Regions from separate parts of the Homo sapiens genome. Here region 2 is linked to region 1. Evidence: fine-mapped expression QTL. A gene starts in region 1. The other region holds a variant in brackets. All regions are shown on one strand. Distances are between the middles of the regions. Region 1 holds the start of RNF223 (ring finger protein 223). Region 2 holds the start of LOC284600 (a long non-coding RNA gene).

The links. PIP is the estimated chance that this variant, and not a neighbour inherited with it, causes the effect.
Region 2: its variant is fine-mapped to the expression of RNF223 in monocytes after Pam3CSK4 (Quach 2016, PIP 0.95).

The regions. Positions count from the first base shown.
Region 1 is chr1:1,066,170-1,081,724 of GRCh38, forward strand. RNF223 (ring finger protein 223) reads right to left here and starts at 8,137. Exons shown (of 2, transcript NM_001205252.2): 1 at 7,847-8,137; 2 at 4,798-6,406. The coding sequence starts at 6,397. The coding sequence ends at 5,648. LOC100288175 (a long non-coding RNA gene) reads left to right here. Exons shown (of 4, transcript NR_148960.1): 4 at 1-284. It overlaps LOC105378948 (a long non-coding RNA gene), which reads right to left and starts at 3,168. Exons shown (of 5, transcript NR_168433.1): 1 at 2,392-3,168; 2 at 1,629-1,871; 3 at 577-629; 4 at 297-429. RefSeq lists silencers at 2,545-2,734, 2,895-2,964, 3,085-3,484, 13,883-13,962, 14,023-14,122 and enhancers at 3,043-3,157, 3,129-3,894, 7,830-8,329, 14,330-15,032, 15,033-15,555.
Region 2 is chr1:895,613-911,167 of GRCh38, forward strand. It overlaps LOC284600 (a long non-coding RNA gene), which reads left to right and starts at 9,503. Exons shown (of 5, transcript XR_007065342.1): 1 at 9,503-12,600. RefSeq lists silencers at 2,356-2,516, 9,148-9,257. The variant T/C (reference allele first, on the strand shown) is at 7,395.

The DNA.
Region 1 (15,555 bases):
TTACCGCTTGACCAAGGGGCCCTCAAGCGGCCCTTATGCGGGCATGACAGAAGGCTCCCCTCTTGCCTTCTATTCACTTCTCACAATGTCCCTTCAGCACCTGACCCTATACCTGCCGGTTATTCCTAGGTTATATTATTAATGCAACAGAGTAATATTAAAAGCTAATGATTAATAATGTTTATAATAATGATGGATAATTGTTCATGATCATCGCTGTATCTAATTTGTATTATGACTATTCTTATTCTATTTTCTTTATTATACTGAAACAGTTTGTGCCTTCAGTCTCTTGCCTCGGCACCTAGGTACTCTTCCGCCCACACGGGACGGGCTGGGGGTGGCCATCTCGGGCTCTGGGAAGGGGCCGGGGCTGTGAGCTGAAGGCTCCATCACCTCCAGATGCTGCAGCAGCAGGAATGCCGGTTCCTGTACCCTCGGAAGGAGGGGCAGAGTGTGGAGAACAAGCCCAAGAATCACTACAAGAACATCCTTCCCTGTGAGGGCGGAGGCCAGGGCGTCACCCGTCGGGCCTGGGGGAGGTGGGGGGCAGGCCGAGCATCTGCCACCGCTGACCTGAGGCTCCCCCTTGCATACCCTGGACCCTCCATCTCTGCTCACCACAGGGTCTGCGGGCAAAGAGGCAGGGTGAGGCCCACGAGCTGTGCCCTGGAGAACTGAGCGGCACCTCCCTTCCCAGTTGATGCTACCCTTGAGTCATCCTGCTCAACGAGGATGACAGCGGGCCCGGAGCCGACTACATCAGGGTGGGTGTGTGCGGGAGGCGGGGCCTGGGCCCATTGCTCCTGGGGGGCTCAGGAAGAACCAGGGTCCCCAAGGGAGGGGTGGGCGGCAGTCTCCAAGGGGTCCTCAGAGAGGCTGGACGGGCATTGGTCCTCAGCCCCTTGCTGGCCTGGAGTGAGGAGTGTGTTTAAGCCACCAGGGCTCTTTGCATAATATTTGTGTGTCGTTTGCATATCATTTGCATAGCATTTGCATGGACTTGTTTGTCCTCTGTTAACAGCAGCAGTTGGCCTCATTCCCTTTCAGACTGACCCTGAGGAGGAGCCGGGCCATGGCAGGGGCAGGGTGGACATCCCTTGTGGCCCTGCCCCGCCGCACCTGCACCTGCACAGCCCGCGTGGGCCCGCCCCGCCGCAGCTGAAGTGCACCACCATGGGCCCGGCCCGCGGCTCGCGGCTCGCGGCTCTGGGCCCGGTTCACCTCGTCCCGGAAGCCGAGGACGCCGGCGGGATCGGTCCGGACGCCGTAGTCCGGCCAGCCGAAGTACTGGAAGTGCTGCACCGTACGCTGTGGCTCCTCCCCGCGGGGCAGGGCCTCGCGGGCGCAGGGTGTACATCGCCTGCAGGGCTGTCTGCAGGCCTGTCTGCAGGCCACGGTGGCTGCTTTCTGGGCCACGGTGCACCAGGAGAACACGCGTGTCATCGTCATGACCACCAGGGAGATGGAGCGGGGCCGGGTAGGGGTGCGGTGCCAGTGCTCCCAGTGCCCATCCCACCCCGTGCATCTTCGGCTGCCCAAGGCCCTTCCCGACCAGGCCAAGGAGGCTGTGGGACGCCGTGGGAGTGGGGAGGCTCCCACAGAGCCCCGTGGCTGCACGTACACACCTGCGTCTCTGCAGGTCGCAGGGGCGGGGTGCCGAGGTGCTGCCAGCAAGGCTGATGCAAAGCGCTCCCCTCGGAACAAGTGTTTCCGGGACTGGCCAGAGCTGCCCGGCAGCCAAGAGTTCGGCCGTGTGCACATGCGCGTCCTCGGCAAGGGCCAGGCCCAGGGCTACTGCGTGCGGGAGCTGCAGGTGTGGCGGCCGGGCCAGGTGAGCCTGGCGGCTGTGGAGCGTGCCTGCTGTCGGCCTGCACTGGGAGACCCCACACCTGCCTGCATCCAACCCCACTGCCTTTGGGGGCTTCCACACCCCTCAACCCAGGAGGTGCATTCCAAGCCTGGACAGGGGTCACTGACGTGGCCACATTCTCAGCCCTGGGCTGGCGGCCGCTCCTCCCACACACCTCTCCAACTGCAGCTTTGGTCTCCGTTGTATACCAGAGACGCCCATTTCTGCTCCGGGCAGATTACCTCGTGTTCCCTCCAGCCCCCGCCCAGTGTGTGTGGGGGGGTCCTCCAGGACCCCATGGACCCCTCACATTTGGTTTTTCCTTATAAAATAACTGTCCTCACAGCCTGCTTCGCCCGCCCCCAGCTCCCTCTTCCCTTCCCCAGGCACCTGAGCCACCTGGGGCCATCTCGGCGCCCCCTCCCCATTTCCTTCCTCCTCCTCCTGCTCGCCTTGGCTCCCGCAGCCCCTCCGCTTGGGCACTCCCGGAAACCCAGCTGTGCCTCAGCCTCCTCCTCCCACCCTGGGGTCACACTCACCGCTTGCCCCGCTCAGGAGGAGCCACAGCGTACGGTGCAGCACTTCCAGTACTTCGGCTGGCCGGACTACGGCGTCCGGGCCGATCCCGCCGGCGTCCTCGGCTTCCGGGACGAGGTGAACCGGGCCCAGAGCAGCAAGCCGCGGGCCGGGCCCATGGTGGTGCACTTCAGCTGCGGCGGGGCGGGCCCACGCGGGCTGTGCAGATGCAGGTGCGGCGGGGCGGGGCCACGCGGGCTGTGCAGGTGCAGGTGCGGCGGGGCGGGGCCACGCGGGACGACGAGGGCGGAGCCATCGGGTGGGCGGGGGCGCCCCCGCCCCCGCCCCCCACTCTCGTCAAAGGCCGCCTAGTTTGTCCTCAGTGGGGGCATCGGATGCACGGGCACCATCATCGTGATTGACATCCTGGTGGACGTCATCCGCAGGCAGGGCGAGCCGCTCCACTCTGGGTCCCCCCGCCCTGCCCTGCTATAGCCCCACCCCTCCGGGCGACCCCACCCCTCCGGACGACCCCACCCCTCAGGACGACCCCACCCCTCAGGACGACCCCACCGCTACCGGCAAGCCCCGCCCCTCATCAGCAGCCCCGCCCCTGCCTGCCGGCACCTTCCCCCCATCCGTAGCCCCTCCCCAAGCGCGCTTGTCCGCAGGGCTGGACTGCGACACCGACGTCCCGAAGACGATCCAGCTGGTTTGGCGGCAGCACTGGGGAATGGTGCAGACGGAGGCTCCGTACAAGTTCACGTACCTGGCGCTGCAGCGGCACATCCGGGGCGAGTAACTGCGCCTGCGCGAGCAGGTGGGGGCGTGGCCCTGCGGGGCGTGGCCTGTGCGGGCGTCGCCATGGTGACCGGCGGCCCCTCCCCCCAGCGCGAGCCGCCTCAGGAGCGCGAGAACCAAAACGTGGGCGCCGCCCCCCGCTAATCGGGTTGCAGCCCCCGGCTCCCCGGGCATCCCCGGTGTGAGTGGAGCGCCGGGGCCGGTCCGGAGTCCTCTGGGAGGGACTGGGACGTGCGGGGTGCAGGGCTGAGCCGCTGCTCCGCGCGCAGAACCCCGCAGCCCTGGGACGGCGAGGACGCGAACCTGCGGAGCCGCGGGTGTCTGAGGAGCCGCAGGGAACCCCCGGCCTAGCCGCGCCCGCGTGTGGCCGGAGCTGCGGGCCGGGACTGTGTCCAGGACAGAGCCACAAGCTTGTCCCCAGCTCAGGGAGGTCCAGGGGCGGCAGAGGGAGCGACAGGCTGCGAAGCCCACCGGTGACCACGTGTGAACCCGCGTGCGCCCCCAGCTCGGCCACTCCGTGCGGGTCTGCCCTCACCGCAGCTCCGGCCTGCCGGCCCTGCCTGCTCCCGTGGTCTGGGATGTGGCCCCGGTGAGGACCCGGCCCCATCAGGCACAGGGTGGATGTCTGTGGAGTGAGGTGTGTGTGACATATTCATGTGACCACCCGTGCAGCGTCACGCGCCTGGCCCTGCCGATGACAAGGGTGTGGGCCTGCGTGGGCATGACTGTGTGTGTGACACAGAGTGATGTTGCTGTGACCCGTGGCTGCACTCCCCACATCACCGGCTTTCACAGCCTTCCGGTAAAGTGCTGTGTTCTCCCTTCTGTGTCTTCGCTGGGACCTGGGGCAAGGGTGGGTGTGGCCCCCACAGCTGGAGTCAGCTTCTGTGGGGCCTTCCCGAGCCCTCCCCACCCTGGACCAGAGGCCCAGCTGGTTGGAGCAGGAAGTACCTGGGCTCTGGGGTCAGGGATGGGAAGGCTGAGGAGGCCTGCGTGAGCTGGACCTGGCCTGGGCCCTCCTGGCCGTGCCTGCCTGGTGGTGCAGGATTCCTGGGGCTGATGACAGACGGGGTAGGGCTGGGGTTGGCGAGCCTCCTGCCGATACCTCACGTAGCTGACCTCTGACTCTTCCCCAGCCAGGCTGGCCCTGGGAGTTGCCGGAGAGTCAGTGGATCTGCAGGCTGCACGCTGGCTGTTACCTTTGCTTCTGGGTTCCCACAGGGGTCATGGTTCTGTGGTTCTCCAGTCAGGGACCCTAGCAGGGCCATGGGGCGTGACTTCCTGGAGGTGTGGCCTAGTATGGCCACGGCAGAGGATGGGGGAAGAGAAAGGCCCCCTTTGTCAGCCCCCGGGCTCTGAACCAAGCTGAAGCCCTCCCCCTGGTCCAGCCTGCCCTGCCCCAAGTGTCCTGGGCCTCTCCCCATCTCCCTGGGGAGCCTCACATTGCTGAGTCGCCAGCCAACTCCAGAAACCCCCAGCCTGTCTGCAGCCAGAGGGGCTGGGAGTTGGACCCCCTAGAACCTTGGGCCCACCTGTCCCAGTGGCTGCTGGGAGTCTAATTCTGTCAGGGTATCCTCTGGGTTGAGGCTGCAGCAGGGGCACCCAGGGTGAGGCCCTCTTGCCAAAGATGGATACAAATAATTTATTTTAAAAGGTACAATTCACAAGGTTGGAGGGGTAGCTGGAAGTTTCTGTGGTTACCTTGCACTGGGGGGCTGCCCTGCCTCCACTCTCTCCCCACAGTCCGAGGGCAAGATGAGCACCCCCACCCAATGGCAGGACCAGCCCTGCGGGGAAATGTCAGCATGAGTGGAAGCACGGCAAGGCCCCTTCCTTCTTGGCAAGGGGCTTCCCTGGCAGGCAGTTCACAGGGTGTGTGGGTGGGGGGGATGCTGACCAGCTGCTCTCCTGGACCCTTCCTGTACGAGCCTGTTTTTTTTTGTTTTGTTTTGAGACAGGGTCTCCCTCTGTCGCCCAGGCTGGATGCAGTGGTGCAATCTTGGCTCACTGCCACCTCCACCTCCCCGGTTCAAGCAGTTCTCCTGCCTCAGCCTCCCCAGTAGCTAAGAGGCACCCACCACGATGCCCGGTTAATTTTTGTATTTTTAGTAGAGATGGGGTTTCACCATGTTGGCCAGGCTGGTGTCAAAATCCCGACCTCAAGTGGTCTTTCTGCCTCAGCCCTCCAGAGTGCTGAGATGACAGGCGTGAGCCACCGCGCCCGGTGAGACTGTGGTTCTTGGAGGCTTTGGGGATCCTCTTGTCCACCCCGTCAGGACCCAGCCTGGAGAATGAGGGGTGGACAAGCTAAATGGAGCCTGGTCTTGGTGGGGCCCCGGTGGAGTCCTCAGAGATGCCAGGCTCCTTTCGCGTCCTCGGGGACCGACTTCCAGTGGCTGCTGTGCCCTTGGGCCCCCCAGTGGGGGACGCCCCATGGAGCTGGGCGAGGGCGGCTGACCTGGGCAGAGGCTGCTGGCCCTAATTATCAGTCAGAGGCCCGAGGGGGGAGGCGGCTGTGCTGGTGGCCGGGGGCCGGGGGGGCAGGGGCAGGCAGCGCAGGTTCCCGGTCTTGAGCGCGCACTGCACCGGCCAGAGTGCCACACAGAAGAGCATCAGCAGCAGGGCAGAGACCAGTGCCATGCGCCTCCAGTCCCTGCAGCGCGCCCAGCAGCGGGCCAGGCGGCCCCGGCGGGGGGCAGGGTCCCGGGCGGGCGCGGGCGGCTCGGCAGGCTTGCTCAAACCCACGTCCACGCATACGAAACCGGGCTCGCGGCCAGGTGTGGTGGGCAGTGGCTGGCAGCACAGCTTGGTGCCCTCCAGCCACACAGGCTCCTCACGCCGCAAATGCGCCGGCATCCGGGCCTGCAGCTGGCGGCTGGTGCACAGCGCGGGGGCTCCGGCGGGCGGCACGGCCGTGGGCTGCCTGCAGAAGGGGCAAGGTACAGCCTCACCACCGGGGCGGCCCACAGGCTGAGCAGCCGCCAGCCGGGCCAGGCACTCCAGGCAGAAGACGTGGGTGCAGGAGAGCTCCTTGGGTGTCTTGAAGATGTTGTCATAGCCTGAGAAACAGATGGAGCACTCCAGGGGGGAGGCCACCCTCTCCGAGCCAGGGGTGCCAGGGGACCTGGGGCTGCCGGCCGAGCTGGGGGACCTGGGCATCGAGGCTATGGAGCTGCTCCGGCGAGGGGGTGGCACAGCCGTGTGCCACACCTGCTGGCCTGACGACATGTCTCTGAGCTGTGGGACAGGGACTGTGGTAAGCAATCACCGGCCGCCCCTTTCTGGTGGTGTTTTATCTCTCCCTCCCCTCTCTCGCCCCAGAGATCCCAGGGAAGGACTCTGTTTCCTGCGCGCCACTCCAGAAAGTTCCTCCGGTGCCCCTGGAGGTCATTCTGCCCCACGTGCAATCCTGTCCTCTCCACCCCATCACATGGCTGCACCGGGGTGAGCCTCCCACAGGGCCCCAGGCCTGCTCCGGGAATGCAGGCCGTGTGTAGGGGGGTCTCACTGACCGCTCGGCAGACACCTCCTGTTGGCCCTGCCCCACCTGGCTGGCCCTGCTGCCCGGGCAGAAATAATGGTGAGGATGACAATAGCCACAGTCGTCACTGTTTATGTCGGAGCTCTGCAAGGCTGGGCCCACATCACGGGACTCACACAACGCCACAGTGTGGAAAAGGCCGCCCAGAGCATGGGTGACTCGGCCAGGGCCACCCCAAGGGAGCTGGCGGGCCCTGGACCCTGGCAGATACGGCTCTCAGGCAGGCCAGGGACTCCAAGTCAAGTGAAGTGAGTTTGAACTCAGATCCCAGGATGGGTGCCTGGCTTGGGCGGTGCAGGCCTGATTTGTAGGCAGCTATGTGAGGGTGGGGTGTGGGGGTCTCTGGGTCTGGGGACCGGGCTGAGCCCCGGGGGCTTTGGGACGACAGGGAGGGCCCAGGCAGGGGCAGGGGTCAGTGCCCGAGGAAGGTGCACGTCAGGCACGACCTGCGGCCTGCGGGGCCGGCTTGTCTAGCTGCTGAGGGTCTGATGTGCACAGTGTGGGGGTGGGACTTGGATAAGCCCAGCCATTCCCTCTGGGCCAGCCCACTGCCTCATGGTCAGGTGATGGTCAGGGCACCCTCAGCCGCCCACTGAGTGGGTGTTTCTTCTCCCTGACCCAATCCCACTTCATGGCAGGGACCCTGGGGGACGGACACTGGGGGATGCTGCTCTGCCCCTGGGCATGGCTCAGGTGGGCATCTCAGCTGACCTGGGACCCTGCTCCACCTCCCGCCCCTCCCCTGCACCCAGGATCCGCTGCAGGGAGCCACAGGGGTCCCACCTGGAGGGAAGTGGGCAAGGGTGACAGTGAGACTCAAGGGCCTGGCCGTGCGTCCCCGTGGGGCCCAGGAGGCTGCCCCAGAAGTGACTCCTGGCACTGCCCCGCCCCACCCCTGACTTGCCAGTGAGTCCCAGACAGGCTGGCGGGATGACACAGGTCACTGTGACCACCTGAGTCACACGCCGTCACTGTGAGGCCGTGAGTGCCCCAGGCACCGGGACCTGGGGACTGTGCTCTGCGGCCTGTGTACCCCACAGAACCGGTTCCTTGGCACGAGGCCCCACCCCTCCACGATGGTGCCCCACCCTGAGCCTGTGCAGGTAAGGGGTGAACACGGGCTGAGCTGGCCTTACCTGGTGGCCGGGGGTCAGCGGGCCTGGGCGTGGTCCTCCTCGCCGGCCACGGTTGGGCTCCAAGGCCCTGGGCTGCCCTGCCGTGGCAGTGTCTGCTTCCTCTTCTCCGGGCCCGGCCCGGCCTGTGCTTCACCCAGCAGGTATCCCTCCCCGGGGCCGGCCACCAGCAGCTGTCCCGGTGGCACTGGTCTGGCAGGTGTGGCTTCTGCTCTGTCCAAGACAGGCGGGGACACAAGGAATGCGTGCGCCGTCACCCGCACAGAGCTCTGGTCTGAGGCAGGTGTGAGTTGCTGGGTGTGGGCTCCCAAGCAGGTCTATTTATACCCTATGGGCCAAGGGTGTGGCCGCAAGCCTCAGGGATTGGCTGGCTTCATCCTCTCCTTGGCGGGCCAGGCAGCTGGAGGGCAGGGAGGGAGGGGTGAGGGTCGGAGCCGGGTAGGGGTCAGCACAGCCGCTGCAGCCTGGGCAGGTCTGGGCTGGGGTGTGTGCTTGGACAAAGCCCTCTCTCCCTATAGCCCCAGGAGGCTGGAGCACCTGCTGGAAGCTGCTCACCGCAGTTCCAGGTCCCTGTGGCCCCTGAGCTCCTGGGTGGGCCTCCTAGCAGGGGCCCTCCCCGAGCCCCCCACAACCTATGCCCAGCCTGCCCCTGCCCTTTGCTCACTGCTGCCTGCCCTCACAGCCCATTCCTGCCACTTCCCTGCCCACACCCACCCATGTGCTCACCTGCCTCATCCATACACATACGTGGCTGCTCTCACACATGGGCCATGTGTTCACACGCTCTATGCCCCCGTGTCCACAGGCTCTCACACACGTGCCGTGTCCGGAAGCTCACATATGCCATGTCCACACTCACACACGCCGTGTCCACACTCACACGCCGTGTCCACACTCTCACACACATGCCATGTCCACATGCTCTCACACACGTGCCCTGTGTCCACACACACACACATGCCATGTCCACATGCCCTAGCAGACTACAGGACTGGTCTGTGCAAAGACCAGGGCTGGAGCTGGTTGAGAGTCTGGGGGCTGAGGCTGGCAGGGCTGGGATGGAGGATGTGTGGGTCTCAGAGGAGCAGCCAGTGGCATGGGCTGCCCCGTCCCCCGCACACCCCGCTGTGGGCCCGAGGGCCTGGTGTAGAGCTGCACCCCCAGGCTGTCCAGCTGCCAGCTCCCCACCTCACTGAGGCGTCTCTCTCCCAGCCCAGTGGACCTCATGCAAGGGGAGGTCCGACCCGGCTGCCACAGCCCCATCCCCGCCATGAGGCCTGGGCCGGACCTGAGCTGGGACTCCACACACCAGCCTGGGGGGGTGCCACACTGGGTGGGGCTGGGAGTGAGGGACCCACCCTAGTGGGAGAGCTGGCCGGGCCACCCCACAGACTGCCCTCAGGCAACTCCCATGCAGGTGCCCGCCGACCCCTCAGTAGGGACCCAGAGGCTCCCCCAGGGCTGCCGCGGGCATCCTGGAGCCCAAGGGATGCTGGGAAGTGGGAACCAGGACTGCAGAGGCCAGGGGGCAACACCCCGAGGAGGAGCACAGGGACTTGGGCTCAGGAAGGGCCGGACCCCTGCCAGTTCCATGAGGACTCTCAGTCGGGGGTTGGGGGGACCCCTGCCAGTTCCATGAGGACTCTCAGTCAGGGGTTGGGGGGACCCCTGCCAGTTCCATGAGGACTCTCAGTCGGGGGTTAGGGGGGTTCAGAGAGCGGATTTGGGTGCTCAGACAGGGAGGGGTGGATGCTCAGAGAGCGGGGCGCGGGCTGGGGCTGGGCTTTCAGACAGGGAGGGCTGGGGACTCAAGAGCTGGGGAGGGGTGGGAGCTCTGTGAGGGGCTCCGTGCGGGGTGGCTGAGGCTATGGGAACTCTGTGGGGGGAGGCTGAGGCTATGGGGACTCCGTGGGGGGAGGCTGAGGCTATGGGGACTCCGTGCCGGGAGGCTGAGGCTATGGGGACTCCGTGGCGGGAGGCTGAGGCTATGGGGACTCCGTGGGGGGAGGCTGAGGTTATGGGGACTCCGTGCTGGGAGGCTGAGGCTATGGGGACTCCATCGGGGGAGGCTGAGTCTATGGGGACTCCGTGGGGGGAGGCTGAGGCTATGGGGACTCCGTGCCGGGAGGCTGAGGCTATGGGGACTCCGTGGGGCAGGCTGAGGCTACGGTGACTCCGTGCAGGGCTGTGAGGCTACGGGGACTCCGTGGGGGGTGGCTGAGGCTACGGGGACTCCGTGGGGGGAGGCTGAGGCTACGGGGACTCCGTGGGGGGAGGCTGAGGCTACGGGGACTCCGTGGGGGGAGGCTGAGGCTACGGGGACTCCGTGCTGGGAGGCTGAGGCTATGGGGACTCCGTCGGGGGAGGCTGAGTCTATGGGGACTCCGTGGGGGGAGGCTGAGGCTATGGGGACTCCGTGCCGGGAGGCTGAGGCTATGGGGACTCCGTGGGGCAGGCTGAGGCTATGGTGACTCCGTGCAGGGCTGTGAGGCTACGGGGACTCCGTGGGGGGTGGCTGAGGCTACGGGGACTCCGTGGGGGGAGGCTGAGGCTACGGGGACTCCGTGGGGGGAGGCTGAGGCTACGGGGACTCCGTGGGGGGAGGCTGAGGCTACGGGGACTCCGTGGGGGGAGGCTGAGGCTACGGGGACTCCGTGGGGGGAGGCTGAGGCTACGGGGACTCCGTGGGGGGAGGCTGAGGCTACGGGGACTCCGTGGGGGGAGGCTGAGGCTACGGGGACTCCGTGGGGGGAGGCTGAGGCTACGGGGACTCCGTGGGGGGAGGCTGAGGCTACGGGGACTCCGTGGGGGGAGGCTGAGGCTACGGGGACTCCGTGGGGGGAGGCTGAGGCTACGGGGACTCCGTGGGGGGAGGCTGAGGCTACGGGGACTCCGTGGGGGGAGGCTGAGGCTACGGGGACTCCGTGGGGGGAGGCTGAGGCTACGGGGACTCCGTGGGGGGAGGCTGAGGCTACGGGGACTCCGTGGGGGGAGGCTGAGGCTACGGGGACTCCGTGGGGGGAGGCTGAGGCTACGGGGACTCCGTGGGGGGAGGCTGAGGCTACGGGGACTCCGTGCCGGGAGGCTGAGGCTACGGGGACTCCGTGCGGGGAGGCTGAGTCTACGGGGACTCCGTGAGGGGTGGCTGAGTCTATGGGGACTCCGTGCGGGGAGGCTGAGTCTATGGGGACTCCGTGCGGGGTGGCTGAGGCTATGGGGACTCCGTGCCGGGAGGCTGAGGCTATGGGGACTCCGTGCCGGGAGGCTGAGTCTATGGGGACTCCGTGCCGGGAGGCTGAGTCTATGGGGACTCTGTGCCGGGAGGCTGAGGCTACGGGGACTCCGTGCCGGGAGGCTGAGGCTACGGGGACTCCGTGGGGGGAGGCTGAGGCTACGGGGACTCCGTGGGGGGAGGCTGAGGCTACGGGGACTCCGTGGGGGGAGGCTGAGGCTATGGGGACTCCGTGGGGGGAGGCTGAGGCTATGGGGACTCCGTGGGGGGAGGCTGAGTCTATGGGGACTCCGTGCCGAGAGGCTGAGTCTATGGGGACTCCGTGCCGGGAGGCTGAGTCTATGGGGACTCCGTGCCGGGAGGCTGAGTCTATGGGGACTCCGTTGGGGGAGGCTGAGGCTATGGGGACTCCGTTGGGGGAGGCTGAGGCTATGGGGACTCCGTTGGGGGAGGCTGAGGCTATGGGGACTCCGTGCGGGGAGGCTGAGGCTACGGGGACTCCGTGGGGGGAGGCTGAGGCTACGGGGACTCCGTGGGGGGAGGCTGAGGCTACGGGGACTCCGTGGGGGGAGGCTGAGGCTACGGGGACTCCGTGCGGGGAGGCTGAGGCTACGGGGACTCCGTTGGGGGAGGCTGAGGCTACGGGGACTCCGTGGGGGGAGGCTGAGGCTACGGGGACTCCGTGGGGGGAGGCTGAGGCTACGGGGACTCCGTGGGGGGAGGCTGAGGCTACGGGGACTCCGTGGGGGGAGGCTGAGGCTATGGGGACTCCGTGCCGGGAGGCTGAGTCTATGGGGACTCCGTTGGGGGAGGCTGAGGCTATGGGGACTCCGTTGGGGGAGGCTGAGGCTATGGGGACTCCGTGCGGGGAGGCTGAGGCTATGGGGACTCCGTGGGGGGACGCTGAGGCTATGGGGACTCCGTGGGGGGAGGCTGAGGCTATGGGGACTCCGTGGGGGGAGGCTGAGGCTATGGGGACTCCGTGGGGGGAGGCTGAGGCTATGGGGACTCCGTGGGGGGAGGCTGCGTCTATGGGGACTCCGTGAGGGGTGGCTGAGGCTATGGGGACTCCGTGGGGGGAGGCTGAGGCTATGGGGACTCCGTGGGGGGAGGCTGAGGCTATGGGGACTCCGTGGGGGGAGGCTGAGGCTATGGGGACTCCGTGGGGGGAGGCTGAGGCTATGGGGACTCCGTGGGGGGAGGCTGAGGCTATGGGGACTCCGTGGGGGGAGGCTGAGGCTATGGGGACTCCGTGGGGGGAGGCTGAGGCTATGGGGACTCCGTGGGGGGAGGCTGAGGCTATGGGGACTCCGTGGGGGGAGGCTGAGGCTATGGGGACTCCGTGGGGGGAGGCTGAGGCTATGGGGACTCCGTGGGGGGAGGCTGAGGCTATGGGGACTCCGTGGGGGGAGGCTGAGGCTATGGGGACTCCGTGCCGGGAGGCTGAGGCTATGGGGACTCCGTGGGGGGAGGCTGAGGCTATGGGGACTCCGTGGGGGGAGGCTGAGGCTATGGGCACTCCGTGGGGGGAGGCTGAGGCTATGGGGACTCCGTGGGGGGAGGCTGAGGCTATGGGGACTCCGTGAGGGGTGGCTGAGGCTATGGGGACTCCGTGCCGGGAGGCTGAGGCTATGGGGACTCCGTGGGGGGAGGCTGAGGCTATGGGGACTCCGTGCGGGGAGGCTGAGGCTATGGGGACTCCGTGCGGGGTGGCTGAGGCTATGGGGACTCCGTGGGGGGAGGCTGAGGCTATGGGGACTCCGTGCGGGGAGGCTGAGGCTATGGGGACTCCGTGGGGGGAGGCTGAGGCTATGGGGACTCCGTGGGGGGAGGCTGAGGCTATGGGGACTCCGTGGGGGGAGGCTGAGGCTATGGGGACTCCGTGCCGGGAGGCTGAGGCTATGGGGACTCCGTGCCGGGAGGCTGAGGCTATGGGGACTCCGTGGGGGGAGGCTGAGGCTATGGGGACTCCGTGGGGGGTGGCTGAGGCTATGGGGACTCCGTGGGGGGAGGCTGAGGCTATGGGGACTCCGTGGGGGGTGGCTGAGGCTATGGGGACTCCGTGGGGGGAGGCTGAGGCTATGGGGACTCCGTGCCGGGAGGCTGAGGCTATGGGGACTCCGTGGGGGGAGGCTGAGGCTATGGGGACTCCGTGGGGGGAGGCTGAGGCTATGGGGACTCTGTGCAGGGCCGCTGTGAGGCCCTGAAAGCACTCGTCGGAGGCTCCTGCTTCCTGAGGTCCGTGACTCGGGTCACATGCCGCCTCCAGGAAGCACCCTGGCCCCTGCAGCTCTGGGAACGTCCTCCCGACAGCTCCTGGGAATATCCTGGCACTGAGGTCACTCTGGGCTCCCGGCTGACACTCGTGCCGGAGGCAAAGGTGAGGAAAGGCCGGAGGAATGTGTGGTCTCGGCGCCAGGCCAGGCCTCCCTGTGCAGGAGAGGAGCCAGCAGCTCCCCTTCTCTCAGCTCAGACGGTCTCTCAGGGCTCTCGGGAGGCTCAGAGCAGCTTGGCTGGCAGATTCCAGGGCAGGGGGTGGGCCCGCCTGGTCCCCTCCGTCGCAGCCAGTGGGCGGGAGGCTGGGCTGGTGAGCGTGTGGGCGTGTGTGAGCACACGTGCCCATGCTTGAGACATGGATGCTGGTGTGAGCACCTGACCCCTCACCTCCTTCACTCGGTCTCCTCACGCCCTCTCAGGGACTCCTTCCCCTCCAGGCCTCGGTTACGGGTCACACCTGGCACTGCCAGGCCTGGGGACGTGGTGCGGCCGGTGCGGGGAGGGGCCTTCCAGGCTGCTGTGGGGCCCCCGGCCTCGCCCCACCCCGCCCCGCCCCGTGCTGGGCCATTGCCTCAAATGCAGCGGCTCTGTTGGCCGTGGGACTGGAATTCTTTCCCAAGGGCCCAGATGTGCAGAGGGGAGGCCGGTGCGGGGGAGCAGGGCTCCGGGACGTGCACTTGGGTCTAGCTTTGCCCCTGACGTGCTGGGGCCGCCCCTAGGCCCAGCTCAGTGTGTCCCTCCTGTGCCCAGTGAGGAGGGCGTGCCCCTCGCTGCCACAGGTCCTGGCTGACCACGTGCTGCCCAAGGGCCAATCGCGAGTGCGCAGGTGGGGGACGTGGGGAGCCAGCTGAGGGGGATATGTGGAGGTGTCAGGATGACCCTGGGTTTTTGGTTTGGGCCACTGGGTGGGAGGAGGAGGAGGGGACCCAGAATTGAGAGATGGGGCCTGGGGGGCTGCTCAGAGGGTGGGCTGGGAGGTGCCTGTCTGTGTCTGGCCTGGCCTCCAGACCCTGCCTGGCTGGACCTGCTGTTCGTGCCTGTTTCCGATTTTATCCTCCAAACCAGACGCCCAGCCTGGTGCAAATGCAGGAGTGGAGTTTCCAGGGGGATGTGGACTCCTTCCCTCCACCCCCACCTCGGTCCCTGTCTCCTTCCCTCCGCCCCCACCTCGGTCCCTGTCTCCTTCCCTCCGCCCCCACCTCGGTCCCTGTCTCCTTCCCTCCGCCCCCACCTCGGTCCCTGTCTCCTTCCCTCCGCCCCCACCTCGGTCCCTGTCTCCTTCCCTCCGCCCCCACCTCGGTCCCTGTCTCCTTCCCTCCGCCCCCACCTCGGTCCCTGTCTCCTTCCCTCCGCCCCCACCTCGGTCCCTGTCTCCTTCCCTCCGCCCCCACCTCGGTCCCTGTCTCCTTCCCTCCGCCCCCACCTCGGTCCCTGTCTCCTTCCCTCCGCCCCCACCTCGGTCCCTGTCTCCTTCCCTCTGCTCCCATCTCGGTCCCTGTCTCCTTCCCCACAGGAGGAGTCTGGGGGCTCCCGCGTCACAGGGGCGTGGCCCAGGGCATCAGGTGGGGCGGTGGGTACTGGGCTCAGAGTGGCCTTGGGCTGTCCAGTCCCTCCCTTTCTCCCCAGGACCAGTGACCCTCCCAGCCCCAGGACACTTCTTGGGCCAGGGCCCAGGGCAGAGCCAATGCTCCCCCAGATACTCCCTGGCTGCAAACCTCAGGCTGGGGGTTTTTGGGGACAGGGATGCAGGTGTCTAAGGACACGACCCTCCAGGCAGTGGACGTTTCTGCCTGGGTGGAGGGCACGGTTACGAGAGCAGGGCCCGCGCTCTGGCATCCTGGTGCCCGGGCCCTCTGCCCTCAAGGCCTGTCCTGCCCCAGCTCAGCCCTCTCTGGCCAGGCCCATCACTGTCAGCAAACACCCCCACACTGCTGCCCCCCCAGATGGCCATGGCAGCCCTCCCGGGGCCCGTGTCTGCAGCCCCCACGCAGCCCGGCCGGCCGATGGAAACGCACACCCACACTCTGTCCCACCTCACTCCGAGCTGGGGGTTCGGGGACCACAGGTCCCACCTGCACAGGTTGCATCTGGGGAATGGGCCTGTGGCAGAAAATGTGCGGCGCGGGGCGGGGGGTCCCAACCAGGCAGCCCCAACCTGGACTCTCCTCCACCCCCGTCCCACCTCCTTGCCCCCAGCACACGG
Region 2 (15,555 bases), 170 kb before region 1:
ATTCGGTCCTGGAGAAACACAAGCATAACCTCTACGCCAAGTTATTATTTTACCTATTTCCCAACTTTTTGTTATTGGATCTGTCCACCAAACCAGTTGTTCTGCTTGTGTCTTTGCAGCTGGTTTCTGTAGATGCTGTTCAGCTGCTGGTAACATCTGGCCTTTGGGAAGGCTCGAAAAATGGAAAGTTAATAATGCAAGATTCAATTGTGTCTGGGCTGTCCCGTAATCCCTGTTTCCCCCCTTTTTTGTTTTTATTATCAGTTGTTCATCTGTATGAAATCGTAACTGAGCATTTTCAATTAACTGTGTGGAATGAACCATGTATGAAGAATCAGAAATCACATTAATAGGCATATCAAAAGCAGTCAATACCTCAATTACAGCTACAAGCTCCACTTTTTGAGCTGAAATATAGGGCGTCTGGAAAACTTTACCTTTTGATCCAGAATAAGAAGCTTTACCATTACTGGACCCATCTGTGAAACAATGAAAACGCTTAGCAGGCTGCAGGTTGTTTACTGCAGGAATTGTAAATGCAAATCGTTCACAGTCTTGCTCAGCTAAAAGGGTAGTAAAGAAACAGTCTTTTAAATCTGTGACTATTAAAGGCCAATTTTTTGGAATTATAGTAGGAGAAGGCAATCCTGGCTGTTATATTTCCATAGGTTGTATAACTGAATTGATGGCTCTTAAGTCAGTTAACATTCTCCATTTACCTGATTTTTTCTTAATTATGAAAACTGGAGAATTCCAAGGGGAAAATGTTGGAGCTATGTGCCCATTTTCTAATTGTTCAGTAACTAATTTCTCTAAAGCGTCCAGTTTCTCTTTGCTTAGCAGCCATTATTCTATCCATATTGGCTTATCTGTTAACCATTTGTAAAGGTATAGGTTCTGGAAGCTTAACAACGGCCGCCGTCAAAAATGATATCCTAATCTTTGGCAGGAACTTTGTCTTTCCACTTGAAGCAGTTCTTTCAAACCTTGCAAATATTTTCCTAGTCCCATACCAGGAACATGCCCCATTTCATGAATTATATGTCGACTTTGAGGGCTATATAATTGTTCTGGAATTAGAACTTGTGCTCCCCATTGTTGTAATAAATCTCTCCCCCATAAATTTATAGGTACAGAAGTTATAATTGGTTGAATAGTCCCAGGTTGTCCATTGGGCCCTTCACAATGCAAAATATAACTACTTTGATATACTTCAGGGGCTTTACCAACTCCAACTATGTTAAATTGAGTGGGTTGAATTGGCCACGCGGACGGCCACTGCTGTAGAGAAATAATTGAAATGTCTGCTCCTGTATCTACCAAACCTTTAAAGTTCTTTCCCTGAATAGTTATTTCACAGGTAGGACGTTTATCAGTAATTTGATTTACCCAATAAGCCACTTTGTCTTGTTTATTTGTGCTTCCAAATCCTCCTGTTCATTTAATTTCACTTTTCCCCATTCCCACATATGGCACAATCAGGAGCCGATCTCCTGGCTCTGCTTTCCAGGGAACAGAAGTAGATATAACAATTTGAATTTCCCCATTGTGATCTGAATCAGTGACTCCTGTATGTATTTGTACCCCTTTTAAACTTAAACTAGACCTTTCTAAAAGTAATCCTATCGTCCCTGCTGGCAAGGGTCCACAGACTCCTGTTGGGACCTTTTGCAGGGGTTCCCCAGGCAGAGGGCTCACAGCTTTTGTGCAGCATAAATCTACTGCAACACTACCAGCTGTGGCAGGGGACAGACATTGTACGGTGGGGAGGGAATGGCCTGAGTTGGAAATGCCCCGGTTTAGAACGGGCCTAGGATGGGCCCCTCATGGTGTTTCCCGAAATCGGGTTCCGTTCTTCATCAAACTTAGAGTGACATTGGTTAGCCCAATGATTTCCTTTTTTACATTTTGGACATATTTCAGCTTAGCAGTTCTCTTTTTTCCCCTATCTGACAGCCGACTCACTGATTTTTTTTCTACATTCTTTTTTAGTATGAATAGCTTCTTTAAATTCTTTGAGTAATTTAAAAGGAAAAGGTTCAAATGTAGCTATAATATCTCCCTGTTGATCTGGGGGGTGTATTCTAACAGGGAACTGCCAAGCCTCTAAATCACCCTCTCTTCTAGCTTGCTGAATTCCTGCCTGAATAGAACTAAGAGCAGTCGCTCCAGGCGCTGCTCAGTCACTGGGGCAACTACTTTTCGCCCACAGTCCTCTGGAAAAGAAATACCTGGAGGGTCATTTTCTTCAAAATAATAATGAGGGGGTGCAGAAGGGTAGGGATGAACCTCTCCCTCCTTTGCCGCTTCAGCTTTAGCTGGCAAACAAACCTGGTCTGTAACCTCTTCTGTTACGTCGCTATACTCTCCTTCCTCCTCCTCATCAGTGTGAAAAGGTTCCAAGGTGAAACGAACCAGACCCCACGCCTGTCCCATTGTTACCCTGATGCTTCCGAGCTCCCCTTCTTACTCACCACGGGGATGGCTTTAAGAGTACTCAGGTGTCCTCCAGCTAGTTCCACGTTCTCCAACCGTCGCTCTGGCGACCCTTCGACCTGGATTCGAGCCCCCACGATGGACGCCACTTGCAGAGACCAGCTCGGTCAGGAAGACCCTAACCCAGCGGCACTAGAGGAATTAAAGACACATACACAGAAATACAGAGGTGTGAAGTGGGAAATCAGGGGTCTCACAGCCTTCAGAGCTGACAGCCCCGAACAGAGATTTACCCACATATTTAGTAACAGCAAACCAGTCATTAGCATTGTTTCTATTAACTAAAAGTATCCCTTACGGGAAATGAAGGGATGGGCCGGAATAAAGGGGTGGGTTTGGCTAGTTATCTGCAGCAGGAGCATGCCCTGATGGCACAGATCGCTCATGCTATGTTTGTGGTTTGAGAACGTCTTTCAGCGGTTTTCCACCCTGGGCGGGTCAGGTGTTCCTTGCCCTCATTCCGGTAAACCCACAACCTTCCAGCGTGGGCGTTAGGGCCATTATGAACATGTCACAGTGCTGCAGAGATTTTGTTTATGGCCAGTTTTGTGGCCAGTTTATGGCCAGATTTTGGGGGGCCTGTTCCCAACAGTAACCAATATTAAGTCATTCTCATTTCAACATTTAAACTCTTCCAACTGAATGCATTAAAAAACAAAAGTCACACACCACTGTACCCCTTATATGTACACAGCGGTCGGCAAACATGTGACAGGTGGAGGTCCTGAGGCACCACTGGGAGCTTGTGAGCGGATGGGCGTCTTCCAGAACGCACTCTGCAGGCACTCGGCAACGTGAAGTGTTCACGTCCTGTGATGCAGCCTCTGCTCCAGGCCACTTCCGGAACTGCGAGGGAACAGCTGTGGGCGCGCTCATTTCAGCTTTGCTTCAGATCCTGGGAGTTGGGGGCACCTTCTTTTTTTTTTTTTTTTTTTTTAGACGGAGTCTTGCTCTGTCACCCAGGCTGGAGTGCAGTGGCGCGATCTCGGCTCACTGCAAGCTCCGCCTCCCGGGTTCACGCCATTCTCCTGCCTCAGCCTCCCGAGTAGCTGGGACTACAGGCGCCCGCCACCGTGCCTGGCTAATTTTTTGTATTTTTAGTACAGACGGGGTTTCACCATGTTAGCCAGGATGGTCTCGATCTCCTGACCTCGTGATCCGCCCATCTCGGCCTCCCATAAAGTGCTGGGATTACAGGCATGAGCCACCGCGCCCGGCTGGGGGCACCTTCTGGCCCACAGTGAGGGAATAAGCAAACCAGAATGGGGGGTGCCTGCACGGAATACTCCTAAGTGCTCAGACACGGCGTCCACAGATGGATCCAAATCAGTGCTGGATGACGGGCACTCACCCCAGGTCTGCAGTCCAATAACACGGGCCTGAGCAGAAAGCACGTGGCATGGAGCCCCGTGGCAGATATGGGGACGAGCGGCCAATACATCAGCTCAGGTGTCCGAGGGGTTTCAGGGACATGAGAGAGAGTGGGGAACGAAGGGGGAAATCGCTTGGAGACCCAGGACGAGCCTGGCACACCAGGATGCTGATTCTGAAAGGGCGATTAAGGAGATTCCATGTTTTAAAAATCTGGATTTCTGGCTTCTTCTGAAAAAAATCAGAAGATGTTTAGCACAACAGCGTGGCATCGTCAGCTGTACTCCTGCCCCACTGTCCCCCAGGGAGCCTGGCTCATCCCATGGCTCACAGAGGCCCACACTGTGGCCAGACAGGTCCACTGATGGCTCAGCACGTGCACCCCGGCTGCAGGGAGATGGGTACCAGCCCAGGAAGTGGGACACTGGCTGAAACAGGATGGGATGCAGGGATGGGGTGGGATGGGAGACCAAACCAGTGTGAGGAATGAGGATAAAGGAGATGCTGGAGATAAAATCTGGGCAAGTAAGCAGGGGGTGGTCCTGCTGGCTGAGGCCAGAGATGCCAGCCCACTCAGACTCCTGCGCTGGCCCTTCCACACCATCCCAGGCCCAAGGCCTCCCACACACAGCGTCACATACACAAACAGCACCCTCCTCATGGCAACAGGTGACCCTGCCCCTTCACAGACCTCCCTGCCCCCACAGTCACCCCACATTTTAAAGGGAACTTGAGTCCATCCTGATATGTAAACGTGAGGTTAAATATCTATCATGGGGGAGAACAGACAAATCTCCAGTGCAGAATAGTTCTAAATAACCTAAGTGGAGGCTCCACTCTTGAGGAGATCCAGCCTAACTCCCCACCTCTCCAACGCGGCTCATCGCAGCGACCTCCTTCTTCCAACGTGGCTCATCGCAGTGACCTCCTTCTCAGGAGTGCAGAGTGGAGGTCAGTGGTGGAGTGAAGACGGACCAGGGTTAACATCGGCAGTGATCACTTGACCTCTGCACACTTGACTCTGGGTCTTTCTCCCCAAAAAAAACCAGAACCTCAGTATAATCGTGAGGAAAATAGACAAATCCTAATTGAGGGACATTCTCCAAAATACCTGACTGGCCCTCCTCAAAACTGCCAAGGTCATGGAAAAAGGAAAGTCTGAAAAACTCACAGTTTAGGAACCTAAAGAGACTTGATTACTAAATGGAATATATCCTGGGATCCTGGAAAAGAAAAGGACATTATGTAAAAACTAAGAAAACCTGAATAAAATGTGGCCTTTAGTTAATAAGAATCCATCAATATTGGTGCATTCGTTGTAACAAGTAGTTGTAACAAGTGCCACGCTAATGTAACACGTTAGTACCAGCGTAACTGGGTGCCAGGCGTTTGTAAACTCTGTTCCGTCTTCTCAATTGTTTTGTGAATCTAAAACCGTTCTTTAAAAAGAGTTTATTTAGTAGGCTGGGCATGGTGGCTCACACCTGCAATCCCAGCACTTGGGAAGGCCAAGACTGGTGGATCACTTGAGCTCAGGAGTTGGAGACATGCCTAGGTAACATGGCAAAACCCCATCTCTACTAAAAATACAAAAATTAGCCAGGTGTGGTGGCGCACACCTGTAGTCGCAGCCACTTGGGAGGTTGAGGTGGGAGGATCGCTGGAGCCTCGGAGGTCGAGGTGGTAGTGAGCCAAGATTGCACCACTGCACTCCAGCCCGGGCAACCAGAGTGAAACGCTGTGTCCAAAAAATAAAAAAAGAGTGTATGTAAAGTGAAAACAGAGAGAGTACAAGAAAAGAGGGAAACCAGGGGCTCAGTGGAGGTGGGCAGGGGCTGGTCCATGTGCATTCAGCCCACCTGGTTGGCAGCTGCCCAGGTGTCTCCTCAGGTGTCGGAACAGGAGTTTCTTCCACAGCCTTCAGTTTGCTCAGGTGGGCATGTGGCGATGGCAGACCCTTGGGCTGTGAGAAACTATGTTGCTGTTTTATCCAAGTCTTCACAGACCAAAGACGGGGCTTTGCCCAGAGGAGGCCTTGAGAAGCCAGGCTGGAGTTTGTGGAGAGAGTGTGTGTCACTCACAGGACATATGACGCATTTGCAACATGCGTTCTCAAAGTGGGAGCCACAGCAGTGTTCGTTTTACTATTGCTGGGCCTGTAAATGGAGCGTTTTATCTTTTTCGTCAGCTGGTTCATTGAACAAGTGTTTACAGAGCACCTGCTAGGCAAATCCATCGTGACAGAGACTCGGTGTGCCCCCAAGGAGCTCACAGTCTAGCGGTAAAGATGGTGCATAAACTCCCTGACACTCAGGGTGGCAACAGCCACCCCACCTGCTCCTCCCTTTCCTAATGCCCACACGGAGCAGACACTCGAGGGCTGCTTTTAGGAGTGCTGACTACATGCTTCCCTACCTCCATGTAGGCATGTGTGTACACAAGCGTGTCCTGTTTTCACCTTTTCACAAAACTATGTCAAAAGTGAAACATTTTGGAATACATTTCCAGTTATGCAAAATGTTTAAAATATGAATTTCTTCGGTTAACACAAATTAGGCATGAAATGTAGGCAACCCTGTTTACCAAGAAACATCAGGGTGCGGTGTGGGTCTGGGAGGTGCCCATGAGCACCTCATCTTGAGGCCAGTCTTCATGCTAGACCCTGGGTGGAGAGAGCGAGGCGGCTGGAGGTGGGTGTGTGACACCAGGTGACTTAGCGGCCCCAGGAGGGTGACTTCCCCTCCGGAGGTGCCATGCGACTGTACAGCTCAGGAGCACTCGGGGTCACCTACAGGAGGGGCAACTCCTGGGTGTCTCCCAACAGAGCCCAAAACCTGGAAGTGGACAGAGCACCCCCCGCTCATCTCCTGGGCCCTCGTCTCAGAGGAAGGACGGCCATTCTGGCCAACACTGACCAATGCTCCAGCCCACACTGCCCTGCACTGCCTAGAAGGAGAACCTAGGCTGGGCTCCCAGACAGGAGAGAGGGGTGCGTTTGTGGGGCTAATTAATAGTAATAATAGGCCGGGAGCGGTGGCTCATGCCTGTAATCCCAGCACTTTGGGAGGCCGAGGTGGGTGGATCACCTTAGCTCAGGAGTTCAAGACCAGCCTGGCCAACATGGTGAAACCCCGTCTAAAAATGCAAAAAAACTAGCTGGGCGTGGTGGTGCCTGTAGTCCCAGCTACTCGGGAGGCTGAGACAGAATCACATGAACCCGGGAGGCGGAGCTTGCAGTGAGCCGAGATCGCGCCATTGCACCCAGCCTGGGCAACCAGAGTGAAACTCTGTCTCAAAAAAAAAAAAAAATCGTCATAATAATAATCCCCCCTCACCTGAGTTCTGGGAGGTCAATCCAGGTTCAAGATTCCTCCTTTGAAAGGTAGACTGGATTTGGATACAGAGGGTGCCCATGCGTGAGGGGACGAGGGGGCCCGGGATGCGGGTCCGTGTGAGGGGCTGAAGAGTTGCCCCTGTGCTAGTCAGTGCCGCCGCCATAACCGAGCCCCGCCGGCTGCGCGGCGTCT[T/C]CAGCAAGCGTTTATTTGCTAATTCTGGGGGCTGGAGGTCCGCGGTCACGGTGTCCACAGACTGACTTCTCCAGAGGCCTCTCCTTGGCTTGTGGACACCGTCTTCTCCCTAAATCCTCATCTCCTCTTCTTATACATTGTATCAGGGCCCGCCCCATGACCCCATTTCACCTTAATCGCCTCGTTAAAGACCCCATCTCCAAACAACCATATTCTGAGGTCCTGGGGGTTAGGGCCTCAGCACAGGAATTTGGGGCGGGGGGACACACACTCTGACTTCGCACCACCTCCCCACCACTGCGTGGTGTGTGCTGCGGTTTAGCTTGTGTGACTGTGATCTTTTTCGTCAACTGGTTCATTGAACAAGTGTTCAACGGGCCCTCTAAGAAAGTAATTAACGTCAAATGAGGCCCTAAGGGTGGGGCCCTGATCTGATAGAATTCGTGTCCTTATAAAAGAGGCACCAGAGCACCCACTCCCTGTCTCCGACGTGTGGGGACAGAACAGGCGGCCATCTGCAAGCCAGGTAAGAGCCCTCGCCAGGAAAGGCCCAGCTCACACCTTGACCCTGGACTTCCAGCCCCTAGAACTGTGAGAAAATTAATTTCTGTTTAACCTACCCAGTCTGTGGTACAGTCATCTCTCAGTATCTGTGGGGCACTGATTCCAGGATCCCCACAGATACCAAAATCCACAGATGTTCAAGTCCCCCAGTGAGCCGTCTGCATCCATGGAGGCAGCCCCAGCCTTGGAGACCGACTGTGTTTCCTTAGGGCAGCCCTAGGCGCAGCGGTGCAAGGAGAGCCACATTTACCCCTGGCGCTGCACGGCCCTGAGGCTGGGCAAGGCTGTCCACCCCGCTGTCAGAACCCCAGCAGGGAAGGTGTCCAGAAGGCAGTCCTGGGAACCCTGCACAGAGGCCCAGCGGGCACAAGGTTGGGGCAGCTCTGTTCCCAGCAGGCCGAGCCCGGGTGGCTGGAGAGGGAGCTCTGGAAGGTCAGCCTAGGGGCCGTCGGCCCCTGCAGACCCTGTGCCCAGCCCAGCATCCCGGGGAGCTCCCTCCACATGCTCATCTCACGAGGTTCCTGCTGCACTCAGAGTGGAGGATGGGAGGCCTGGGGCGGAGGGCCGGGGCTTTGGAATGGCTGAGGGGGACAAGGATGCACAAGGGGCCAGTGCAGAGGACAGCGCGACTCCCAGGGGCCCGGGGTCCTGGTCTTCCTGGTCCTGCCGTTTTTATTAGAAGCGAGCCCTCCACCCCAGTGGGTGTAGAGCCCAGGACGCAGCAGAGGGTGGGGGGGTGGGGGGCGGCATCGGGGCAGGTGGCAACCCCTTGGACGCAGGCTCAGGACGCCAGGGTCAGGGCGTGAGTGCCGGGGCCCCCTCAAAGCCGCGGGGTCCAAAGAGGCCGCCGGCCCCGGCCCCGCCCTCTGCTCCTCCTCCCCCTCCACCGCCAGGCCCGGGTGGCCGCCGCCTCCTCCGAACGCGGCCGCCTCCTCCTCCGAACGTGGCCTCCTCCGAACGCGGCCGCCTCCTCCTCCGAACGCGGCCGCCTCCTCCTCCGAACGTGGCCTCCTCCGAACGTGGCCGCCTCCTCCTCCGAACGTGGCCTCCTCCGAACGCGGCCGCCGCCTCCTCCGAACGCGGCCTCCTCCTCCTCCGAACGCGGCCGCCTCCTCCTCCGAACGTGGCCGCCTCCGAACGTGGCCGCCGCCTCCTCCGAACGTGGCCGCTTCCGCAGCGCCCGGCGCAGGCCGCACTCCGCCACCAGGGGGCGCCACAGCTCCTCGCGCCGCCGCCTCCCGCAAACACAAAGAGCCGCGCGGCCACGACGGCCGCGTGCCCGGAGCGCCGGGGTCTTTCCTGGGCTCCAAAGTCAAGAGCTCACGTTCCGGGAGGATCTGTCCGCGGAAATTCGGTTCTGAGCGTCGCCGGACTCCGCCGCGGGGAGGCGGGTGAGGGGAGGGGGCCGGAGGGTCGGGGGTGCCGGGGGGTGCGGGAAGGCTGCGGGGGAGGCTGTTGGGGACGTTCGTGGCGGGGGAGGCTGTTGGGGACGTTCGTGGCGGGGGAGGCTGTTGGGGACGTTCGTGGCGGGGGAGGCTGTTGGGTCCCCTCCCCGCCCCACCGCGTCCCAGGGAACCCCGGCAGGGCACCCAGTGAGGGGGGCCCGGGCGTCCGCCCATTCCTCACTGCTGTCCCCGCCTGTGCCCGAAACCCCCGTTCACGTTCACCGAGAAAACAGACATAAACCCAGCCAGGCACATCCACTAGAATGGCTGTGATTTCAGAAAAGCGGACGTAAGTGCTGCCGAGGAGATGGAGGCGTTGGACCCCCTCGCGCATTGTCGGGGCGGGTGCAGCCGCGGTGCAAAAGGACCTTCCTCAGAAAGTTGAGCACGAAGTTCCCACAGGCCCGGAAGTTCCCCTCCCGGGCGCTCCCCAGAGAGCTGAAGACTGGGCGCGTGCCGGCGGCAAATGTTCACAGCAAAGGGCGGCCCAGTGCGCAGCTGGAACATCAGCCCCAGGCGGTCGCTGCGACAGGGACGAGCCTGGGAAACGTGAAAATGTCCAGAACAGGGAATCCACAGATAAAGAAAAGACATCGTGGTTGCCAGAGCTCGCGGGAGGGGGCAACAGGGACCGACTGCTTAACGTGTATGGTTCCCCTTCAGGGTGAGGACGTGTTCTGGGACGAGGTCGAGGTCAGGGTTGCAGGACAAGATGAAAGCGCTAAATGCCACTGAATTGTTTGCTTTAACGTCATTAATTTTGTTATGTGAATTTCATCTCAATAGAATAAATAGGTCAAGCTGGCTGCAGGGCCCACCCCACCGCGGCCTGGAGCAGGGTCTTCTGGGGTGTACCACCTCTGCCCTCACCCAGGCTCCACCACGACCAGCTTCGTCCACCCCCCAGGAGACCATGAAGGCCCACGTCTGAAATCCTCACTAAGCCCACCCTCCCATCTCCCTGAACTACGGGTAGGACCCCTCTGGCCCCCAGCCCTGCCCTTGACCCGGCCCACCAAGCCCCCACCCAGATCCACACCACCAGGCACTCTTGCCCTTGGCCTGCTGCCAGGCTGGCCCCGCTCCTTCTGGGCCTCCTGGAGCTTCAACCCCTGCCTCCACAGCAGACCTTGGCCTTTAGCATGTTCAGTCTCCTCAGTGGCAGCCCCGGGAGGGCCATCTTCTTGGGTCAAAGCCCTCCTCACTACCCACCCTCTTGCCAGGACTAGCTGTGTCCTGCAGCAGCCCAGCATGTGCCGTTGAGCTGGCCTTTTCTCAGGCCCAGTGCCCAAGGAGGAGCTGATTGCATAGGCTCAGAGTTTCCAGGAAGAGTGGGGACTCAGATGTCTGCCCAGGTGTCTCCACCGCGTCCGCCAGGGCCTCCAGCTTTCCTAACCAGGACCCTGGCCTCTGGCCTTGGTTGAGTATTTCACCTTCTTCCATGTTTAGTCCCTTGGGCTCTGCTACCCTCCTGCTGGAGGTGAGAGCATCCTGTGTGCAACCAGAGATGCCCTCTGGCTTTCAGACCTGCCTGCTTTTCACCCTCAGCCCTTTCTCACTCAGCAAAATTGTGGGGGTCCCTAGTCAGCAGCTCCCTGGGCAGCTCTCTGAGCAAGGTGGTCTCTGTGGTCATGAAGGAGAGCCGGCTAGGACAGTGCCGGAAACTCAGCTGCCTCTCCCCTTCAACTCAGCTGGCCCCCCGCACCTGAAGTGCACAGGAGCCGGGAAGAGAGTCTGGAGCCCACCCCGGAGGGCAGCACAGGAGGTGTCTCTGCAGCTGGTGTCCTGCCACCCCTGCAGGCAGCACACGTCCCGGGCATTCTCCTTAGCCACAGACAGAACAGCCAGTGCCAGAGTCTGCTGTCGCTTCCCCTTTAAGCACACTCATTCACCACACCCGAGGAGGCCAGAGGTGCAGGGAGCATGGGCTGTCGCTTCCCCTTTAAGCACACTCATTCACCACACCCGAGGAGGCCAGAAGTGCAGGGAGCATGGGCTGGGTGCACCTCCGCAGGAGAGAAGGCTGAGCCACCGCCGTCCCGGGAGCCCGGCTCCCAGGCCTCTCGTTTTCCCCTACCTCCCTAAGACTTTTCTGTCACTCTCTGGCCATTGAAAGGCTTCTGTTCCTTAAAGTGCTGTTACACTCTCCTTTCCCAGGATGCAGCAAGCCAAAACAGTACCACTGCACGTCAGCCTGGGTGACAGAGTGAGACCCTATCTTAAAAAAAAAAAAAATTGGCTGGACATGATGGCTCACGCCTGTAATCCCAGCACTTAGGGAAGCCAAAGTGGGCGGATCATTTGAGGTCAGGAGTTCAAGACCAGCCTGGCCAACATGGTGAAACCCCATCTCTCTACTAAAAATACAAAAATTAGCATGGTGTGGTGGTGCATGCCCATAATCCCAGCTACTGGGGAGGCTGAGGTGAAAGAATTGCTTGAACCCAAGAGGTGGAGGTTGCAGTGAGCCGAGATCACACCATTGCACTCCAGCCTGGGCAACAGAGGGAGACTGTGTCTCCTAAAAAAAAAAAAAAAAAAAAAAAAGTCTTCTTTCCATGATGAGAATGTCAGGCCCTGCAGCCTCTTGCACTGGCCAGAGGGGCTGGGGTCACTGTCTGTTTCCTTGCCCACCCTCAAGGGACAAGGAGGAGAGGTGAGGCTGTGGGCGCACCTGATTTTACCTGCTGGAGTCTGTGTTCTCTGGGATTAGGGAGCATCTGGAGCTGACTCTTCCTCCATGGGACCCTCCCTTTTTCAGGAAAACTTCCCCTCCTCGGGGATCCCGCAGGGCTAAGAAACACCCTCTTCACCTCCCTCCTGCCCGGTCCTTCTGACCAGCCGAGAGAGTACAGACCCTCCCCGATCTGGGAGGAGGGCCCATCACTGGCTCCCTGCCCCCTGCTCGCCAAGCCCCCCGGGACTTCCCAGGCTGTTCCTTCCACCTGAAGGGTCTCCCTCTGGCCAAGGCGAGGCTCACAGTTCCCCTGTCAGGATGGGGCCTTAGACACCCAGACTGACCCAGTGACAATCACCTTAATTCTCCACAGATAACTACCTACAAGTTTTCTGATTTATTCATTAGTGGATTTGTTCGTGATCAGCCCCACACCTGTTAGAATGGAAGCTGCAGGCAGCAGGAACCAGTGTGGCCAAGTCGGAGGGCAGCACAAGCCGGTCCTCCTCGTGGACAGCAGGTGTGGAGCAGGCCAGGCCCACAGGAGGGCGGGCAGGAGGGCAGGCACCGAGAGGTGCGGATGGCCTCTCAGAACAGGGGTGCAGGCTGGTGGGGGCAGCAGCTGGAAGGGGAAGGTCACAGAGCCAGAAAGATAGGGTGTCCGCCACAGCCAGTTCTTTGGAAGTTTCCCTGAAAAAGGGAAAAGAGACAAGATATGGTTCAAAGGAAAGCAGGGCCTGGGAGAGGCCTGTGTGCAGTGTGTCTGCAAAGGGAGGAGGAGGCAAAGATACTGAAGGTGAAGAGGGAAAGGAGGAAGGGACAGGGGAGGTGACAGAGGGAGGGGAGGGGGAGGAGGGGCGGGGGAGAGGAGGGAAAAGGGGGAGGCGATGGGACGGGGGAGGGAATGGGGGAACAGGTGGGAGGGGAGGAGGGGGTGGGGGAGAGGAGACAGGGGAGAGGGGAGTAGGGGGAGGGGATGAGGGGAAGGTGGGAGGGGAGAGGGGAGGGGATGGGGGAGGGAATGAGGGGACAGGTGGGAGGGGAGAGGGGACAAGTGGGAGGGGAAGGGATGGGGGAGGGATGAGGGGACAGGTGGGAGGGGAGGGAATGAGGGGCAGGGGGGAAGGGAGGGATGAGGGGCAGGGGGGAAGGGAGGGGGGTTTGGCCCTGCAGCAGGTGGGATTCTGCTCAGCCCATTTCCTGGGCCACGGGATTCATGAAGGGCACCGGGTCAGGCCCCCCGGGCGCACCGTTGCTGGTATATGCGGTGATCGGGGTCAGGCCCCCGGGCGCACCTTTGCTGGTATATGCGGGGGTCGGGGTCAGGCCCCCGGGCGCACCGTTGCTGGTATATGCGGGGGTCGGGGTCAGGCCCCCGGGCGCACCGTTGCTGGTATATGCGGTGGTCGGGGTCAGGCCCCCCGGGCGCACTGTTGCTGGTATATGCGGTGGTCGGGGTCAGGCCCCCGGGCGCACCTTTGCTGGTATATGCGGGGGTCGGGGTCAGGCCCCCGGGCGCACCGTTGCTGGTATATGCGGGGGTCGGGGTCAGGCCCCCGGGCGTTGCTGGTATATGCGGGGGTCGGGGTCAGGCCCCCGGGCGCACCGTTGCTGGTATATGCGGTGGTCGGGGTCAGGCCCCCGGGCGCACCGTTGCTGGTATATGCGGGGGTCGGGGTCAGGCCCCCGGGCGCACCGTTGCTGGTATATGCGGTGGTCGGGGTCAGGCCCCCGGGCGCATCTTTGCTGGTATATGCGGTGGTCGGGGTCAGGCCCCCCGGGCGCACTGTTGCTGGTATATGCGGTGGTCGGGGTCAGGCCCCCGGGCGCACCTTTGCTGGTATATGCGGGGGTCGGGGTCAGGCCCCCGGGCGCACCGTTGCTGGTATATGCGGGGGTCGGGGTCAGGCCCCCGGGCGTTGCTGGTATATGCGGTGGTCGGGGTCAGGCCCCCGGGCGCACCGTTGCTGGTATATGCGGGGGTCGGGGTCAGGCCCCCGGGCGCACCGTTGCTGGTATATGCGGTGGTCGGGGTCAGGCCCCCGGGCGCACCGTTGCTGGTATATGCGGGGGTCGGGGTCAGGCCCCCGGGCGTTGCTGGTATATGCGGGGGTCGGGGTCAGGCCCCCGGGCGCACCGTTGCTGGTATATGCGGGGGTTGGGGTCAGGCCCCCCGGGCGCACCGTTGCTGGTATATGCGGGGGTCGTTTGTGGTGTCATCACTGCTATCTTCCAGGCCGGGAGGAAGGACCGAGGGTGGGCCCGGCGCGGGTGGGGGTCCTGGGCAGGGGCGGCGGCGCGGCCGGGCTGGTCCTGGCGCTGGGACCCGCAGCTGCGCCCTCTGCCTGAGCAGAGACCGGGGCCCCCACGCTCCGCGCCAGCACCCGGCCGCGCCGCGGAGAGGGAAGGGTTACGGCGGGGATGGGGGTGGGGGGGTTGGCGGGGGCGCGACTGACGGGCTCGGGATTGGCTCGGCGCGCGCGGGACCCGGGGGCAGCTGCGGGCCCAGACTTCCCGGACGCCCTGGCGCCTCTGCTGCCCACGGCGGCCCCGAGGCCGCGCCCGCGGAGAGGGGGGCCCCCATCTCCTGTCAGCCGCAGTGACTGCGGGTGCCTGACGGCGCCGCCAGCCCGGGGGGCCCCTCCCGGCCCCAGCGGGGTCTCCCGGGGCTGCCTCTGTCGGTCCCGACCTGCCTGGTCCCTGGAGCTGGGGTGGGAGTCGTGCTTTGATCAGTCACCGGGGGCGGGGAGACTGGTCGACCACCCCTGAGGGCCCGGGACTTGTTTGCCACACCTGGGGAGTTTCGCGGCGGCATCTGGAGGGGTCCTGGTTGAGCAGCTAGGGGGGTGTCTGGTAACCAGCCGGGCCCCTCAGGCTCCCTCCCGGCAGGCCCTGAACAGACAGCCAGGGATGGAACTCGCCCCCTGGGCACCCTGTGCCTGCCCTCAGCCTCCCCACTGAGGCCCAGGACTTTAGAGGTGGGCGTGCCCGCCAGGCTGCCAGGCCGTCCCTCCGTGGGCAGCTGAGCAGGCCACAGTGTGGAAGAGGCTCCAGAAAACCCAGCCCTGCCGCTGCACACGTGCGTGGCCAGCAGATAAAGTCTTCCTTGTTATTGTGGGCAGCGTAGCTGCACCTGCGGTGAGGCCGGCACTGCTGAAGAGATGTCAATTCACAGAGCTTGACTATGACCCAAAGGTGAGGTCAGGACTCCGGGAGAGGATGGCAGCGGTCTTCAGGGGAAACTCTCCTTTTCTTCTGTCTGGACACTGGAGCCACACACTCGCCTGTCCCCATCCTCCCACAGCATAGGGCTCCTGGGACCTCGGCCCTGGGCAGGATTTGGGGGATGGCCACGTCTCTCTGAGTGGGCTCTGCTCATGGTCCTCACAAGGCCCGGGACATGGATGAGACCAGGCTTGCGTCCTCTGCCTCCCCGCCCCACTGTGGCTGTGCCAGCCTCCCTGACAGGGGCTCT